2 separate regions of the Homo sapiens genome follow, and region 2 is linked to region 1. Evidence: fine-mapped expression QTL. Tissue or cell type: subcutaneous fat. Region 1 holds a variant in brackets; the other region holds the start of a gene. All regions are shown on one strand. Distances are between the middles of the regions.

What was found. PIP is the estimated chance that this variant, and not a neighbour inherited with it, causes the effect.
Region 2: ZNF264 starts here. The variant in region 1 is fine-mapped to the expression of ZNF264 in subcutaneous fat (GTEx, PIP above 0.99).

What each region holds. Positions count from the first base shown.
Region 1 is chr19:57,231,380-57,239,565 of GRCh38, forward strand. AURKC (aurora kinase C) reads left to right here. Exons shown (of 7, transcript NM_001015878.2): 2 at 363-408; 3 at 654-845; 4 at 1,163-1,301; 5 at 2,081-2,229; 6 at 3,505-3,679; 7 at 3,868-4,169. The coding sequence ends at 4,038. Among named protein-coding and RNA genes, the nearest start is that of AURKC, 4.4 kb to the left of the region's middle. The variant A/G (reference allele first, on the strand shown) is at 3,052.
Region 2 is chr19:57,187,421-57,195,606 of GRCh38, forward strand. ZNF264 (zinc finger protein 264) reads left to right here and starts at 4,080. Exons shown (of 4, transcript NM_003417.5): 1 at 4,080-4,526; 2 at 6,455-6,581. The coding sequence starts at 4,494. RefSeq lists enhancers at 3,916-3,975, 3,996-4,085, 4,096-4,155 and a silencer at 4,326-4,595.

The DNA of each region.
Region 1 (8,186 bases):
CATGTGTTGACATCTCCCCTCCCTCTCCTCCTCCCCAACGCTCTTCTTTTCTCCCCACTCCCTCCCTTCCCTCCAATTCTTTCTTTCACCTCTCCCTCCCCTACTCTCTCCTCCCCTTCCTTTCTCTCTGCCTCTTCTTCACCTCCTCCTCCCCTCCCTACCTTACCTTACTCTTTCTTCTTCCCCTTACCTCTCCCTCCCCCTCTCCCTGCCTTCCCCTTCCCTCTCTTTCTCTCCTCCCCTTCTTCCCCTCACCTCTCGCTCCCTATTCCCTTCTCTACTGTTCTCCTCTCCTCTCTTTCTCTCCCCTTCTCCTTCCCTCCCCTCTCCCTTCCTATCTCCCTCCTCCTCCTCTCTTTCAGTGGCTACAGCAAACCAAACAGCCCAGCAGCCCAGCAGCCCAGCCATGTGAGTCCCTTGGGATTGGTATCTGGAAAAGGAAGGAAGGTGGGACGTGGGGATGAAGAACAGACTGGGTGTGTGGGGTGCTGGCTCCTGGGAACGAGAACTACTGATAGGGCTGGGTCTGTGTGAGAAGGGAAAGCGGCAGAGGAAGGATACAATGAAAGAGGAAGGGGAGCATTGGCATCCCTGACTTTCCCTCCGCCTACCCTACCTCCCAAGCTGAGGCTTTTTTCTTCCTCTCCTGTCAGGCGGCGCCTCACAGTCGATGACTTTGAAATCGGGCGTCCCCTGGGCAAGGGGAAATTTGGGAATGTGTACCTGGCTCGGCTCAAGGAAAGCCATTTCATTGTGGCCCTGAAGGTTCTCTTCAAGTCGCAGATAGAGAAGGAAGGACTGGAGCACCAGCTGCGCCGGGAAATTGAGATCCAGGCTCATCTACAGTAAGGACAGTCTCTGCTTCCTCTTTCATCTTTGACGTCTGAGCCCAGCATTTTCCCCAAATACTAACCCCAAGTAAACCCTGCACTTGTACCTTGAAGACTTCTCTGCAGTTCATTCCATTTACACTACCTCCTACCCTGGGTCAGACACTCGAATCCTGGTTCCTGTTCTCCGTTCTCCCCTCACTTGCTCCCAGATAGGGCTGTTGTTATTCTGGTCCCAGCATAATTTGCCACTTGTGTGACCAGGCAGTGACGGTGGCATCATATGATAGGCCTCAGGGAGAAATCTGACTCTTCCAACATTAATCCTTCAGACACCCCAATATCCTGCGCCTGTATAACTATTTCCATGATGCACGCCGGGTGTACCTGATTCTGGAATATGCTCCAAGGGGTGAGCTCTACAAGGAGCTGCAGAAAAGCGAGAAATTAGATGAACAGCGCACAGCCACGGTGAGGTGCGGGTCTGGAGGCTCTGGGGTCTCTGAGTTTACTGTGGGCTGGTGGGAGCTCTGTTTGTGGCTGTCAGGAGGGTCCGCATTGCCTTCTGAGAAGTTTACTTCTGAATGTTATTGTGTAAATTTAATATAATGGCACGTATGTTCTACAGCTTTATCCTTGGATACCCTAATTAACCTCATTGTATCTCCAGAATATTAATAAGTACTGCGTATAGGTTTGGATTCTTTGGTTATAAGCAACAGAATCTAACTCCACTGCCTTATGTAAAGAAACATATTGAAAGGCTCTGAAGGAGTTCACTGAATAAATAGCTAGAACTGGCTTAGAGATAGGTACAAAGAGATTTCTAGAGGGTTCCGGAAAGGGAACCATGGCAATGATTTTCCCAGGAGCAATGGTCCAATCAGCTTGCTGTGTCAGGATGAGTGGTCTTCCATCTTTCCTCCTGTTTCTGTTTCACTTCCTCGGGCCTCAAGTCCTGTGAGAGATCATCTGAGTGGCTCAATGTAGGTTCTATGTCTGGCTACTTGCTGTGCTAGGACAACAGGGAGGATCTGTGTCCATGTTACCATCCATCCTATAAGACCACATAAAAAGGAGAGGAAAACCACACCCCACACACCAGTAACTGGTGCAATTTAAAAGGAGGAAATGGAGTTACTGGACCAAAAAGATTCCACTGTAATCATACAATTCATGGTAAGTGTTCCACCTCAGACGGAAATTGTGGCAGGCTTCACTTCCAGGGTGACTTTTCTTTGCACCCACAGATAATAGAGGAGTTGGCAGATGCCCTGACCTACTGCCATGACAAGAAAGTGATTCACAGAGATATTAAGCCAGAGAACCTGCTGCTGGGGTTCAGGGGTGAGGTGAAGATTGCAGATTTTGGCTGGTCTGTGCACACCCCCTCCCTGAGGTAGGTCAGGTGGTGGTGGTAGGGTGAGTTCTGAGTACCAGTTAGGAATGACCCAGTTTAATGTATTTCATGTGTCCATGTGTAAAACCTAGATACGAACTTGGGGTTTCTATTGGAATACTGCCTTTTTCTTTTCTTTTCTTTTCTTTTTTTTTTTGAGACAGAGTCTAACTCTTTCACCCAGGCTGGAGTGCAGGGGCACAATCTCGGCCTCCCAGGTTAAAGCGGTTCTACTGCCTCAGTCTCCCAAGTAGCTGGGATAACAGGCATGTGCCACCACACTCGGCTAATTTTTGTATTTTTAGTAGAGACAGGGTTTTGCTATGTTGGCCAGGCTAGTCTCGAACTCCTGACCTCAGGTGATCCGCCCACCTTGGCTTCCCAAAGTGCTGGGATTACAGGCGTCAGCCACCATGCCTGGCTGAACTACTGCCTTTTTCTTTTCTTTTTTTTTTTTTTTTTTTTTGAGACAGAGTTTTGCTCTTGTTGCCCAGGCTAGATTGCAATAGTGTGATCTCGGCTCACTGCAACCTCCCCCTCCCAGGTTCAAGCGATTCTCCTGCCTCAGCCTCCCAAGTAGCTGGGATTACAGGCATGGGCCATCACACCCGGCTGATTTTGTATTTTTAGTAAAGACGGGTTTCACCATGTTGGTCAGGCTGGTCTCCAACTCCTGACCTCAGGTAATCTGCCTGCCTCGGCCTCCCAAAGTGCTGGGATCATAGGCATGAGCCACGATGCCTGGCCAATGCTGCCATTTTCAAACACCTATACTTGATATGTATTCGTAGATTTAAATAATGTGGTCCAATCAAACCTTTT[A/G]TTTTCTGATCTTTGTTAATATATAACTATACCAGTAAGTTTGCATGTAAATAAAGTCATTGCTCCACAATTCCAAAGGAGTGCATTTTTCTGTATGAATGATTTTCATACAGAAATTTTCTTACCATAATTTATTTACTTGGCTCTCATTGATACACCATCAGTTTGTTCTAGATCTTTCTTAATGCTGAGAATATTCTTGTGAAAACATTCTGGAGCATGAGCTAAATCACTGTGTGAATAATTCCAAAATATGGATTTATTAATAGTAGGCCCCAGTACTTTTCTGAACCTTGATCCATATTAAAAATTTGTCTCTCCAAACTCCTGTGCTTGGGAGGGACTTTCCAGGGTGTCCTAGGGTCTCCACATCTCAATGAAAGCTGGGGAAGGAGAATTTCCCTCATCCTGGGCCTCTGCTTAGTACTTATTCCCTTTTCTGCCTTCCTCTAGGAGGAAGACAATGTGTGGGACACTGGACTACTTGCCGCCAGAAATGATTGAGGGGAGAACATATGATGAAAAGGTGGATTTGTGGTGCATTGGAGTGCTCTGCTATGAGCTGCTGGTGGGATATCCACCCTTTGAGAGCGCCTCCCACAGTGAGACTTACAGACGCATCCTCAAGGTGGGACAGTCACCTTTGGGCATTCATGGGGGAGCTGGTCAGTGATGGCTGCTGGGCTGTGGGCACACACACACACAGGGTTGTCTTCTGTGGTCCAGAACAGCGCCTTAACAAGGCTCAAAGAAGAGGGAGGACATTGATCAAAGAAATTAACCAGACTTCTCTTTCTTCTTTCCTGGCCTCATCAGGTAGATGTGAGGTTTCCACTATCAATGCCTCTGGGGGCCCGGGACTTGATTTCCAGGCTTCTCAGATACCAGCCCTTGGAGAGACTGCCCCTGGCCCAGATCCTGAAGCACCCCTGGGTTCAGGCCCACTCCCGAAGGGTGCTGCCTCCCTGTGCTCAGATGGCTTCCTGAGCCCTGTCTGCCTCTGTTCCCTTTGTGTGTGTTCAGGGAGCTCTCCTGGCTCTGCCACCTCATTTGTCTTTATTTTTTTCTCTTTTAAGATGTAAGATGCTAATTAATAAAAGCTGAATCATTTCATACCAGCTCTTCATAGTTGTGTGAGTTATTATGTGACTGGGTAGAATCTTTATTTCTTGTGGGAACTCTTTCCCATGAGAGCTGCCCAAGGTTGTTCTCCCTGCTACCCCCACCTTCCACCTCGGGAGATGGTGACTTCATTCTTCTGAAAACTCTTGCCTACTTTCAGGTCAGGCACGGTGGCTCACGCCTGTAATTCCAGCACTTTGGAAGGCCAAGGCAGGCGCAACACTTGAGTTCAGGAGTTCAAGGCCAGCCTGGCCAACATGGTAAAACCCTGTCTCTTCTAAAAATACAAAAATTAGCTGGGCGTTGTGGCGGGCACCTATAATCCCACCTACTTGTGAGGCTGAGACATGAGAATTGCTTGAACCTGGGAGGCAGAGGCTACAGTGAGCTGAGATCGTGCCATTGGAGTCCAGCATGGGAGACAGAGTGAGACACCGTCTCAAAAGAAAAGAAAGAAAACTCTTGTCTACTTTCTGCAGATAAATTCCCTGAGGGTACATAAACCTGCCACCTATCACAGTGGCTCCTTGATCCAACTTACTATTCTCCATGTTTTCAGGAGTATGCCATTTGTAAAACAGGACTGTCATCAACCCAAAGGTCCACTCTCTTTTTATGGACATCAATATGCTGCTGTCTCAGAAATAAAATGTTTCACTGCACGTCAGTGCAACCCACTTCTTAAGTGAATACACTAGCACCTCTGTGTTGTGTTGCACTCTGATGACATTAGAATAAGTCATTCCTCATAATAAATGTAATATCACCTCTTCTGAAATTACTGCATGCTGCAATTTGGGGAGTGGCCTTCCAGCCTTCTGTAACCTTCTGTGACAGCTTCATGTGGCAGCTGCTCCCTGCACCCATTATAAACTGACTACCACAGTAAGCATCTAGACTCCTCAGCTGTAAGCTCAAATGTTTTTTGATCAATGCAGTCAGTTACACCAGTATTTCTCCTAACTTTAGTTGTTAAGCACTTTATATGGAGTTTGCCTTGTTAATGTTACTCCTATCATTATATTCTACAAAGTCTCCTCATTGTGAAATATCCAGCAGTTGCAGGCATGATTTCTGCTATGACCAGACCCACTACGTAAGCATAAATAACTCAGCCACTTCACTTGGATGAAAAGCTCCCACTATTGCAGATCTATAAGTTAAATACTCCAAGACATTGGTTCATGGTTTTTAACCTGCACTTTCAGTATTTACCTCTTTTTTGTTTTTTCTTTCTTTTACCTGCATGGGGAGACACAGTGCTTACCTCTATATGCTTTGCTTCATCCTATCAGTTTTCCTGAATTAACATTTTAAACACTTGGCAATTCCTAATAAATTAACTGGTTCACACATATAAACTCTTACACATTTTAGGTGCTGGATAAACACATCACTGGGCACATTTTTGGCAGGTAAGGATAGAAAAATCACTAGGGCCTCAGCACTGATCACCAGATGATATATGTTTAAATAATGAAAACTCTGTCATGCTTTACATGAGGGATTTGAAAGTGTCCCCAGGCCGGGCGTAGTGGCTCACACCTGTAATCCCAGCAATTTGGGAGGCTGAGGCAGGCAGATAAACATGTGAGGTCAGGAGTTCGAGACCAGCCTGACCAACATGGTAAAAACCTGTCTTGACTGAAAAATACAAAAATTAGCTGGCCATGGTGGCTGTAATCCCAGCTACTTGCGAGGCTGAGGCACGAGAATCACTTGAACCTGGGAGGTGGAGGTTGCAGGGAGCCGACATTGCGCCACTGTACTCCAGCCTGGGCAACAAAGTGAGACTCTGTCTCAAAAAAAAAAAATTGTCACCAATATCTACATAGCTTTCTTCAGCAGCACTGATTCCAGACATTCCATGATGGAATATAAATATACTAACTTTAATATCTGTTCTGCATCCAAAGCGAAAACTAATTTAACCCTACGGGTCATACACATATGGAAAGGAGAATTATTCCTCTCTTCTAAATTGGGCAAATTAGTATTGTCAATGATGAGTAACAGTGTCAACAGCTTGCACGCTAATTAAGCAACATTTCTCAATAATCTCATTTTACAAATAATACCTTCTAGAAAATTGATTCCATCTACATTTCCACCCAGTTAACATCCTGTCATGATACTTTCTCCACTTTCAAATCTCTGGAGGGCATTTTCTGCACACCTTGTTTCCATTTTCATAACCATATGTATTGTCAAATCATTGAAAGCTGGATTTTATTCTCTAACCTTCATAGTCATGAGAAGAAAAAAAACAGTCACCAACGGAGACTACAAAGGTTTTGTATAATATGATTTTTTTTTTTTGAGACGGAATCTTGCTCTCTGGCCCGATCTCGGCCCACTGCCGTCTCCGCCTCCCAGATTCAAGCGAGTCTCCTGCCTCAGCCTCCCAAGTAGCTGGGATTACAGGAACCCGCCACCATGCCCAGCTAATTTTTGTATTTTTAGTAGAGACGGGGTTTCACCATGTTGGCCAGGCTGGTCTCAAACACCTGGCCTCAGCTGATCCACCCGCCTTTACCTCCCAAAGTGTTGGGATTACAGCCGTGAGCCACTGCACTCGGCCTGTATAATTCTTAAAAGATTGTTATGACCCTAACATGACTTTGTTGCTTTCTTGTTTGCAACCAGTTAGTTCAGGGTTGTCAAAAGGCCAAAATTACAACAAATTTAGTTTTAGATCTAATTGACTTTTGTTTGTGATTCATGAATTGAGGCAATCTCTGTTCTACACAATAGAAATTAGAGTTCCCACTGGGCAATGGCAGAACAGTGGGTTTTGTAAGGTGGGAACAATAAAATAGAACAATAGAAAAAAAAGCTGATTGGTTAACAGATTACTTTTTCTAAGGGTTAAAGCAGAGGGGACTTCCTAATTTCACTAATTCAGGTAGACTGAAATCTGCTTTTAGGAAAAACTGGGATCTGTCTGCTTCCTTAAAACTTCAGTTTGATTAGATGACATTTAGTATGAGAGACGCCATTTTGATTTGGTCAGTGAGGCCTGCTGTAGGAGCTCCAAAACAATGGCCTCCTGTAATTTTTGTTTAACAATGTTCACCTCTTTCCATTCCTTTCTCCATCTATGCTCATTTTTTTTCATGGTCTTGTCCAGTATCATAACTTGAAATAACAGTGTTTGCCAAAAACTTCCAGATTTTTATGTCCAGGCACAACTTCTCTCCCAATATTCAGTCAGAGATTGAACTGCTGTGACACAGACACTCTGTGGTCATACAGACATTTCAAACTGATCATGCTTAAAGTTGGAGTCATGAGCTCACCCAGTCCAAGACTCCCCACGTTAAGGAATGTCAAATCTACTCTACCAGGGCTCTCAGCCAATACCTAAAGCAAAAGTTGCTGGACCATGTGAAGACCAAGCTTGGCCAAAGAAGGCCCAAGAGAGACAATGCATTTGCAACATGTCCCAGCTGGACAGGGTCTTGCTCTATTGCCCAGACTGGAGTGCAGTGGTGCAATTACAGGTCATTGCAGCCTCGACCTCCTGGGCTCAAGAGATCCTCCCATCTCAGCCTCCTGAGTAACTGGAATTACAGGGGTGTGCCACAATGCTCAGCTAATTAAAAATTTTTTTTGAGTAGGCTGGATGCTGTGGCTCATGCCTGTAATCCCAGCACTTTGGGAGGCCAAGGTGAGTGGATCACTTGAGCACAGGAGTTCAAGACCAGCCTGGGCAGCATGGTGAAACTGACTACAAAAACTACAAAACAAAACAAAAAAACCCTCAATTTGCTGGGCGTGGTGGTGCGTGCCTGCAGTCCCAGCTACTTGGGTGGCTGAGGTGGGAGGATCACTTGAACCCTGGAGTTTGAGGCTGCAGTGAGCTGTGATCGCGCCACTGCACTATGGCCTGAGCAACAGAGCGAGACCCTGTCTCAAAAAATATATATATAAATATATATATAAATATATATGTGCATATATATACGTATATATACATATGTATATATACGTATATATGTATATATGTATAT
Region 2 (8,186 bases), 44 kb before region 1:
GCCTCCCAAAGTGCTGGGATTACAGGCATGAGCCACCGCACACCACCCCCATTTCTTGCAGTAAAATATGTGTGTGTGTGTGCGCGTGTGCGCGCGTGTGTATTCCATTTCTCCCTAATACCATTTCTCAGCTGCATGAATCCTTAACTCATGAAAGATACTTTTTATCCTCTTGACTCTACAGTTAATGGAAAATAAAAATCATCAATAGTGACTTCTAAGATTGCTTAATATACCTTTCTGGGAGGACAGTTAGAACTCCTAATGTGAGCTTGTCAGTTTCTTGTGAAAACCAACCCAGTTGTCCCATAGAACTGATGTTTGTGGTTTCTTTTGACTGAACCTAGAAATTGACCCTCCCACTCTTAAAACTTGAGAAAAGTACATTTGTCATAATCGTTTGTCACAGAAATAACCAAATTTCCTTGTCCATTGTTTTTTAACTATGGTTGTCCTAAGACTTTTGTCATCCACAATTATTGTTTGACTTTGAGTCTTCTCCAAAGGTGGCTTACAGTCAGCTACAGTTCAGGGCTTCTTTGAGAGAGTTCATAAAAAGAACACTTGAATTCAAGTTTCTGGTAACTTTGGAGATTGTCCTATCAGCCTAGAGAGAAAACTTCCAGGACTCTAATTAGAAGGCTGATATATTCATAAAATACATAATTATGTATACATATGTTTATGCAATATGAAGCAGAGCAGGAGTTTCATGGACTGTACTAATTTATTTCATGATAAATAAAAATATTTTATTATATAGTATATTAAGCCATCTTAGAAGTCACTGTTGATGATTTTTTTTTCTCCATTAACTGTGGAGCCAAGAGGGTAAAAAGTATCTTTCATGAGTTAAGGATTCATGCAGTTGAGAAATGGAATTAGGGAGAAATGGAACACACACACACAAACACAGAGATTTATTTCAAGTACTGAATTTATTTTATTATTTTTTGTGTGTGTTTGAAACATTGCTGATTCTTTTTGTTTTGTTTTTGAGTCAGGAGAACTTTTTTTGTAAATCTACTTTCTGTCTCTATGAAACTTTTTTCTTTCCAGCTATTTATAGCCTTTAACAATTGAATATACATTTGTAAACAAAATTTGAGGGCTATTTCTCTCTCTGCCTGATTTCTCCAGAATTCAGAAACTATTTGTGAATATTCTTAATTCACGGCAATGTGGTTGTTTGCATATGTTCAATAAGAATCTGTTTTCTAGCTAGGTGTAGCATATGTTCAATAAGAATCTGTTTTCTAGCTACTTGGGAGGCTGAGGCAGGAGGATCGCTTGAGCCCAGGAGTTTGAGGCTGTAGTGAGCTATGATCGTGCCACTACACTCCAGTCTGGGTAAACAAGCAAGACCCTATCTCTATTTTTTAAAATCCATATTATTTTATAACACAATTGTAGGCACTGGGTCTTTTCCCAAGGCTTTGACAGGAATGGCATATTTTTAACTATGCGAGACTGCTTTGAGGAATTAAGACTGACTTTATGGGCCAGGCGTGGTGGATCATGACTGTAATCCCAGCACTTTGGGAGGCCAAGGCGGGTGGATCACGAGGTCAGGAGATCGAGACCATCCTGGCTAACATGGTGAAACCCCATCTCTACTAAAAATATAAAAAATTAGCCGGGTGTGGTGGCAGGCGCCTGTAGTCCCAGCTACTCAGGAGGCTGAGGCAGGAGAATGGCGCGAACCCAGAAGGCAGAGCTTGCAGTGAGCTGACATCACGCCACTGCACTCCAGCCTGGGCGGCAGAGCAAGACTGTGTCTCAAAAAAAAAAAAAAAAAAAAAAAAAAAGACTGACTTTATGGAGCTGATGGGAGCCCTTGGAAGGACTGGCCTCATATCTTGTGCACACAGTTCCTTTGTGGGGTTCCTGGCCTGTAGTAAATACAGTGTCATTTTCTGATAGGCCTAGGAACCTCAAGATGTTCTGGGGCCTCAAGAAAAACGGGTTTCACCCAATTCATGCAGGTATGTACAGGTGCAGACAGATCTTTGGCTGGGCTTAAGAGGTCTTTGGGTGTTGAGTCTGAGAGATTCCTTATGAGGGGTTCCAGCAAAGCCAATTTAGGAGGAATTGTATAAACAGTGATTCTTGCTGTAGTTTGGATAAGTATGGTGGGACTGAAGCTTGTTTTGCAGGTAAGTTGTTCCTGCTGTGATTTGCTTTTGATGGAAGTCAGGGACTAGAGAGAGAAAAACTGTTTCCAAAGAAAACTATAGTGCTGCCAGGTGCAGTGGCTCAACTTTGGGAGGCTGAGGTGGGCGGATCATGAGGTCAGGAGTTTGAGACCAGCCTGGCCAACATGGTGAAACCCCGTCTCTACTAAAAATACAAAAATTAGCCAGGCATGGTGGTGGGCACCTGTAATCCCAGCTACTCGGGAAGCTGAGGCAGGAGGATCGCTTGAACCTAGGAGGCAGAGGTTGCAGTGAGCGGAGATCGTGCCACTGCACTCCAGCCTAGGTGAAAGAACAAAACTCTGTCTCAAAAAAAAAAAAGAAAGAAAGAAAGAAAACTATAGCGTTAGATTAACCTTTGAGTTAATCTGAGTGGCCACGTGGTCATCTATGGTATGCAGCCACCCACAATACCCCTCCTCAGCATAAAGCAGCCAGAAAGATCACGTCCAGATTCCCCATGATTGAGGAATTGATAAATAGAAACAGGGAACTGAAACCAGCTCCAGTGTCCCATAGAACTGATATTTATGGTTTCTTTTGAATCAACACATTATAGACATTGAGCCTCCCCTTCCTAAAACTCGAGACACTTTTATTTGTCTTATCTGATTTCCTTTCTCAGGAAACCAAGCATCAGGCCTCCCAGATAGTATAAAGAAACTGAAACTTACTGGATTACCACATCTGGAAAAACGAGATGCTATACCCCTTACCCATGATGATTGCCTAACTGACCATCTGCTGCCTGTTGACCCATTCCTCTTCCTTACCCCTTCCTAATTCCTGTTTTCTCAAACATAGTTACACTTCTTCCCTGATGTATAAACCCCTAGTTTTAGTCAGTTGAGGAAAGAGATTTGAGATTGATCTCCCATTTTCCTCAGCTGCAGCACCGAATAAAGCCTTCATCCCTGACAATACTCATTGTCTTGCTGACTGGCCTTCTGTGCAGCAAGCAGCAGGATCTAGATGCAAGGACCTGGCCTTTCTGGTAATATTGTCATCAACCATTTAATGATGTAGACTTGGTCCCCGGCTCATGCTCTGTGTATTTTCTTCTCCATCTACATGCATTGCCTTGATGGTCTCACTCAATATCATGACTTGAAATAACAGTGTAAGGTAACTCCTAAATTCATATATTCATGCTCAAACCTTCTTCCAACATTCAGTCGTAAGTCGAATTGCCTGTGACAGAGATACTTTGTGGTTCTGTAGACATTTCAAACTAACCATCCTGAGCCTCCGAACCTCCTCCACTTGCAGCCTCCCCACCTCAGAAGTGGGCAAATCCACTTTTTGTGTGGTCTGGGCCAAATACATGACTCCCTGCATCACGTAGAGGCTGTGCTGGTCCAAAGAAGGCTCAAAAGAGGGCAGTTTGCGCACACAACGTGTCGGGGCAGGGCTTCCAGATGATCATTCGGCTTTTTTGTGTCTTCCAAGATGATGATCCGGGGAGGAGGGATGTGAAAGGGGGTCAGTCGCCAGGCGAGCTGAGGACCCAGTTCTGCGCCTTTGCCTGTGCCCTGACCTGAAGGAAAGTCCCTGTCTCCCGAGCTCCGATTTTCCCGAGAGAAGAATGCAATGTAACCCTTGCCCCTCGGTTCCCTCCCTCCATCCTTCCCCTCGAGTTGTGCCCACCGTAAAGAGGTGGGTCTGGAGCGTCTCCTCGGGTCCTGGAGTGCCTTTCCCTGGGAGGAAAACTTGCGCCGTGAAGCGTTCCTCCCGTTGTTGAACACATGAGGAAAACTACACTACTTAGAAGGCTGTGCATTATGCGTACGGCGGGAGCTGGGCCAACGACGGCCTAGGACGGGGACGTTTCCGACGGCTCACGCCGGTGGGGGCGGGACTTCCGGGTTGCTCGCTGCGGACGCCATTTTCTTCTGCACTTCTGTCTGGAGAGGTCTGTAGCCACTGAGGGCCCCGGTCGGGGCCGCTTTGCAGGTCCCTAGTCAGGACCGAGCAGGGGAGTAGGATAGGAATCCCCGCCGCACCTTTGTACGAGCCTGACCCCTTCCGTGGGTTTGTTCCTGGGTCGCCGTCAAGCTGCGGTCTCTCCTCCCCCGCCCTTCAGCCCCGCGGTCTCCAGGGGCGGCGCCCTGGGTCTGGAACGCGGTTGCCACCGAGGAGGCGGCGGCCCTGCGTCTGGAACGCCGTTGCCACCGAGGAGGCGGCGGCCCCGAGCGCGCCTGGAAGCCCCGGGCAACCGGCCAGGGTCGGGCACAGGTGGGGTCCGTCAGGCCGCCCGGGGCTCCTCTGTCCCAGCTCTGCGGCCCAGGGGGTGACGTGATGGCGGCAGCGGTGCTGACGGACCGGGCCCAGGTGAGTGGACGGTGGCTTCGCGGTTGCCGCTTCCTTGCCAGCGCTGAGGCGGTTTCCGAAGTGGGTGGGAGCCCAGGTATCCCCTGGATTTGTCTTCGCAGTCGTCGTTCGCTTTGGTGTGTGGAGCTGGTTTGCCACTTAATTTATACCTGGCCGTAAGGAGTGTTGGGCCTACTGGAAGGAGCTCCGTAGGTTGTTGAGTGAATGATGCTTCCTCTGGGGACTCCCATCATCCTTGGCCTGCAAGCATTCTCTGGTGGACCAGGTCTCATTCCAGCATGAATTGGGGGCCTGAGGGGGGAAGGGGAGGGCAGGGCAGTAGCAAGCCGACAAATGCGCGAGCAGAGACAAGGTATGTTGTATGTTTAAGGAGGCTCAGGAGGGTGTGTAAGGTTGCCATGGTTTTCCTGCGGCCGCTGAGACGTGGAGGGCAACAGTGTGTGGTCTTTTCCTGGATGTTCTAGCCATCCGCAACTACTGCAGACATTGTGGCCAGTCAGATGCCCTTACTCTCATCGCTACAGCCTGCATTATCCTTGGCCGCTCGTGTTCCGTGGCCCCAAAGTATCCTGGCGTCAGAGACAAGTTCTGTCGGAACCCAGTAAGGAAAGAGGCCGATGGTTGGTTCATTGTGGAATTTCCTTGGGGGATCTGGGAGACCCAGGGAGATCCCAGAGGGCATGGGAAGCTGGTCTGGAGCCTGTCGTTCCCCAAGTAGATGCAGCCCTTCCAGTGCCGCTCTGTGGGGTCAGTGAGGAATGCTGAGCTTTTTGTGCCCGTGTTCACATACTTTTTTTTGTTTTGAGACAGGGTCTCACTCTGTCGCCCAGGCTGGAGTACAGTGGTGCACTCTCAGCTCACTGCAGTCTCTGCCTCCCAGGTTCAAGCAATTCTCCTGCCCCAGCCTGCCGAGTAGTTGGGATTACAGGCATGCACTACCACACCTGACTGATTTTTGTATTTTAGTAGAGACTGGGTTTCACCATATTTGCCAGGCTGGTCTTCAACTCCTGGCCTCAAGCGATCCGCCCACCTCGACCTCCCAAAGTGCTGGGATTACATGCATGAGCCACCATGCCCGGCCCACAGATACGTTTTTCAGGGCTAATTGAAATAGACTTAATGTTAGAAATGAGTGGAAATGCTTATAACTTCATCGCATTAGATTTGCTTTGATGTTGGGGGAGTGTTGGAGTTACACTGTTAGACCGTGAATCATAGTAACCCCATGTTTAGATCCTATCTATGGTGGTGAGATGTGTGACTGGGTGAATTGATAGCGCTTCCTTAGCATGAAGTCATTGACTGTGAAGGTGATGATGGTGTTGACTGCAGGGACTGTGAAAGGATTAATAAAAATCCCAGAGCACACTGAGCATTGAATACTTTAAATTTAACAACTGTTACTGGTGGGAAGTGTTATTGTATTGATCCAGAAATCAAGGCTCAGAGAAATGAAATGCTGTCTTTGAGGTAAGAGCTGTCAAGTGTCAGTTTCAAGTGTTTGGAGCTAGGAACTTCTAGTCACTGTGTTTACACAGGATGTGAAGCCTTCAACATGGGGCAGGCACCTAGCTGGACCAGTGAGACTCAGGTACTGCCGTTGTAACCATTATTGCTATTATTACCATTTCCCCATTTCCCTGTCGTTTTAGAGCCCTTAGCTTCTGTATTTCACAGTCCACAAGTTGTTTCCGTTGTCCTGTGTCATTCTCTAACGGCCGTTAAATAGGAGGCTTCTCTCCTTTACTCTGGTATTATGTTAAAAGCATCTATCTTCCCTCTTGAGCCCAGCACAGAGCTAGGCCCTCAGGAGGTGCTCTGTGATTCAGGCCGCCATCACTGTACACCTTTTCCAGTGGAGCACAGTCTGTGATCTCATTCAGCAGCTGAAAGGCCAATACTACTAATTCTGTTTGACTTTCCAGGTGTCTGTGACCTTTGATGATGTGGCTGTGACTTTCACCAAGGAGGAGTGGGGGCAGCTGGACCTAGCTCAGCGGACCCTGTACCAGGAGGTGATGCTGGAAAACTGTGGGCTCCTGGTGTCTCTGGGTAAGGCCTTCCTTCCCCCTCCACCATGCAGGTGACCTGCCACTTCCTTCATTCCATCTTCTGACTCCAGGCCTGGCTGCACAAGAAGGCCTCTAGAATCTACCTTGCCTCTTTCCCACAGCTTTAGTCATTTTCCACAGTAACCTCTTCCTATCTGGTCTCCTATATCTCTGGGCTAAAGACAGGGTACTCTTTGGCTCCCAGCCAAAGGAGAAGGTGGTAAAAGGAAATGGGGTGTTTTGCAAACTCAAAGGTAATTTTCAGCTGTGCCTCATGAGGGGCTGGTGTAGGAACTGAGAACCACCACGATGGTGTCCTGGCTTCTCTGTCTGGGTCTGCTCATGTCACGTCTATTCTCTATGGCTTTTTCTGCCTTAGTGAGTTCAAGACAAGAGTGGCCACCTGGATTAGGGTTCTCTAAAGGGACAGAACTAATAGAATAGATATATATAAAAAGGACAGTTTATTAAGTAGTAATAACTCATGATTACAAGGTCCCACAGTAGGCTGTCTGCAAGCTGAGGAGCAAGGAAGCCAGTCCAAGTCCCAAAGCTGAAGAACTTGGTGTCCAATGTTCGAGGGCAGGAAGCATCCAGCATGGGAGAAAGATGTAGGCTGGTAGTCTAGGCCAGTCTAGTCTTTTCATGTATTTCTGCCTACTTTATATGCTGGCCTCGCTGGCAGCTGATTAGATGGTGCCCACCCAGATTAAGGGGGGGGTCTGCCTTTCCCAGCCCACTGACTCAAATGTTGATCTCTTTTGGCAGCACCTTTACAGACACACCCAGGATCAATACGTTGCATCCTTCAATCCAATCAAGTTGACACATTAATAAAAATCCCAGAGCACACTGAGCATTGAATACTTTCTCTTTAAATTTAACGACTGTTACTGGTGGGAAGTATTATTGTATTGATCCAGAAATAAAGGCTCAGAGAAATGAAATGATGTTTTTGAGGTAACAGCTGTCAAGTGTCCGTTTCAAGTGTTTGGAGCTAGGGACTTCTGGTGACTGTGTTAACACAGGATGGGAAGCCTTCAACATGGGCCAGGCACCTAGCTGGACCTAGCTGTTAACCATCACAACTCCATCCCTTGTCAACTTGAACCCATACACATCTCCTGAGATCATACATAATCTTCAAATAAAGACAATAAGGTCATAATTATGCTTAACATAATACAAGTATCGTTCATGCAACCGAAACACACTAATCCCCAACCCAAGTGCTATTACATAAAGGTAGCAATACTTAAATGCTGATATGAAGTCAGTAAATCTTACGTCACATGATAAAGGAAATAAAATGCAGATGTTTTCTTAGTACAAGTGTATACATCACAAACATGTTTTTAATAAAAGAAGGAGGAAATACAACAATTACAGTCCTCATTTCTGCAACTGGTCACTTGGTCGTAGTTGGTATTAATGACTACCTTCTTCTCCTGCACATTCTGTATTCACTTTGCCTTCAGCAAGCACCTCAGCAGGTCATGGTTTTTTTTCCTGGTGGAGTGACCCAAACCTTCATTCCTGAAGGGTCTGGGCCATTTGTAGTCCTGCCTGGATTGGGCTGTTGTAGCTTCCCATTGACCTTAATCAC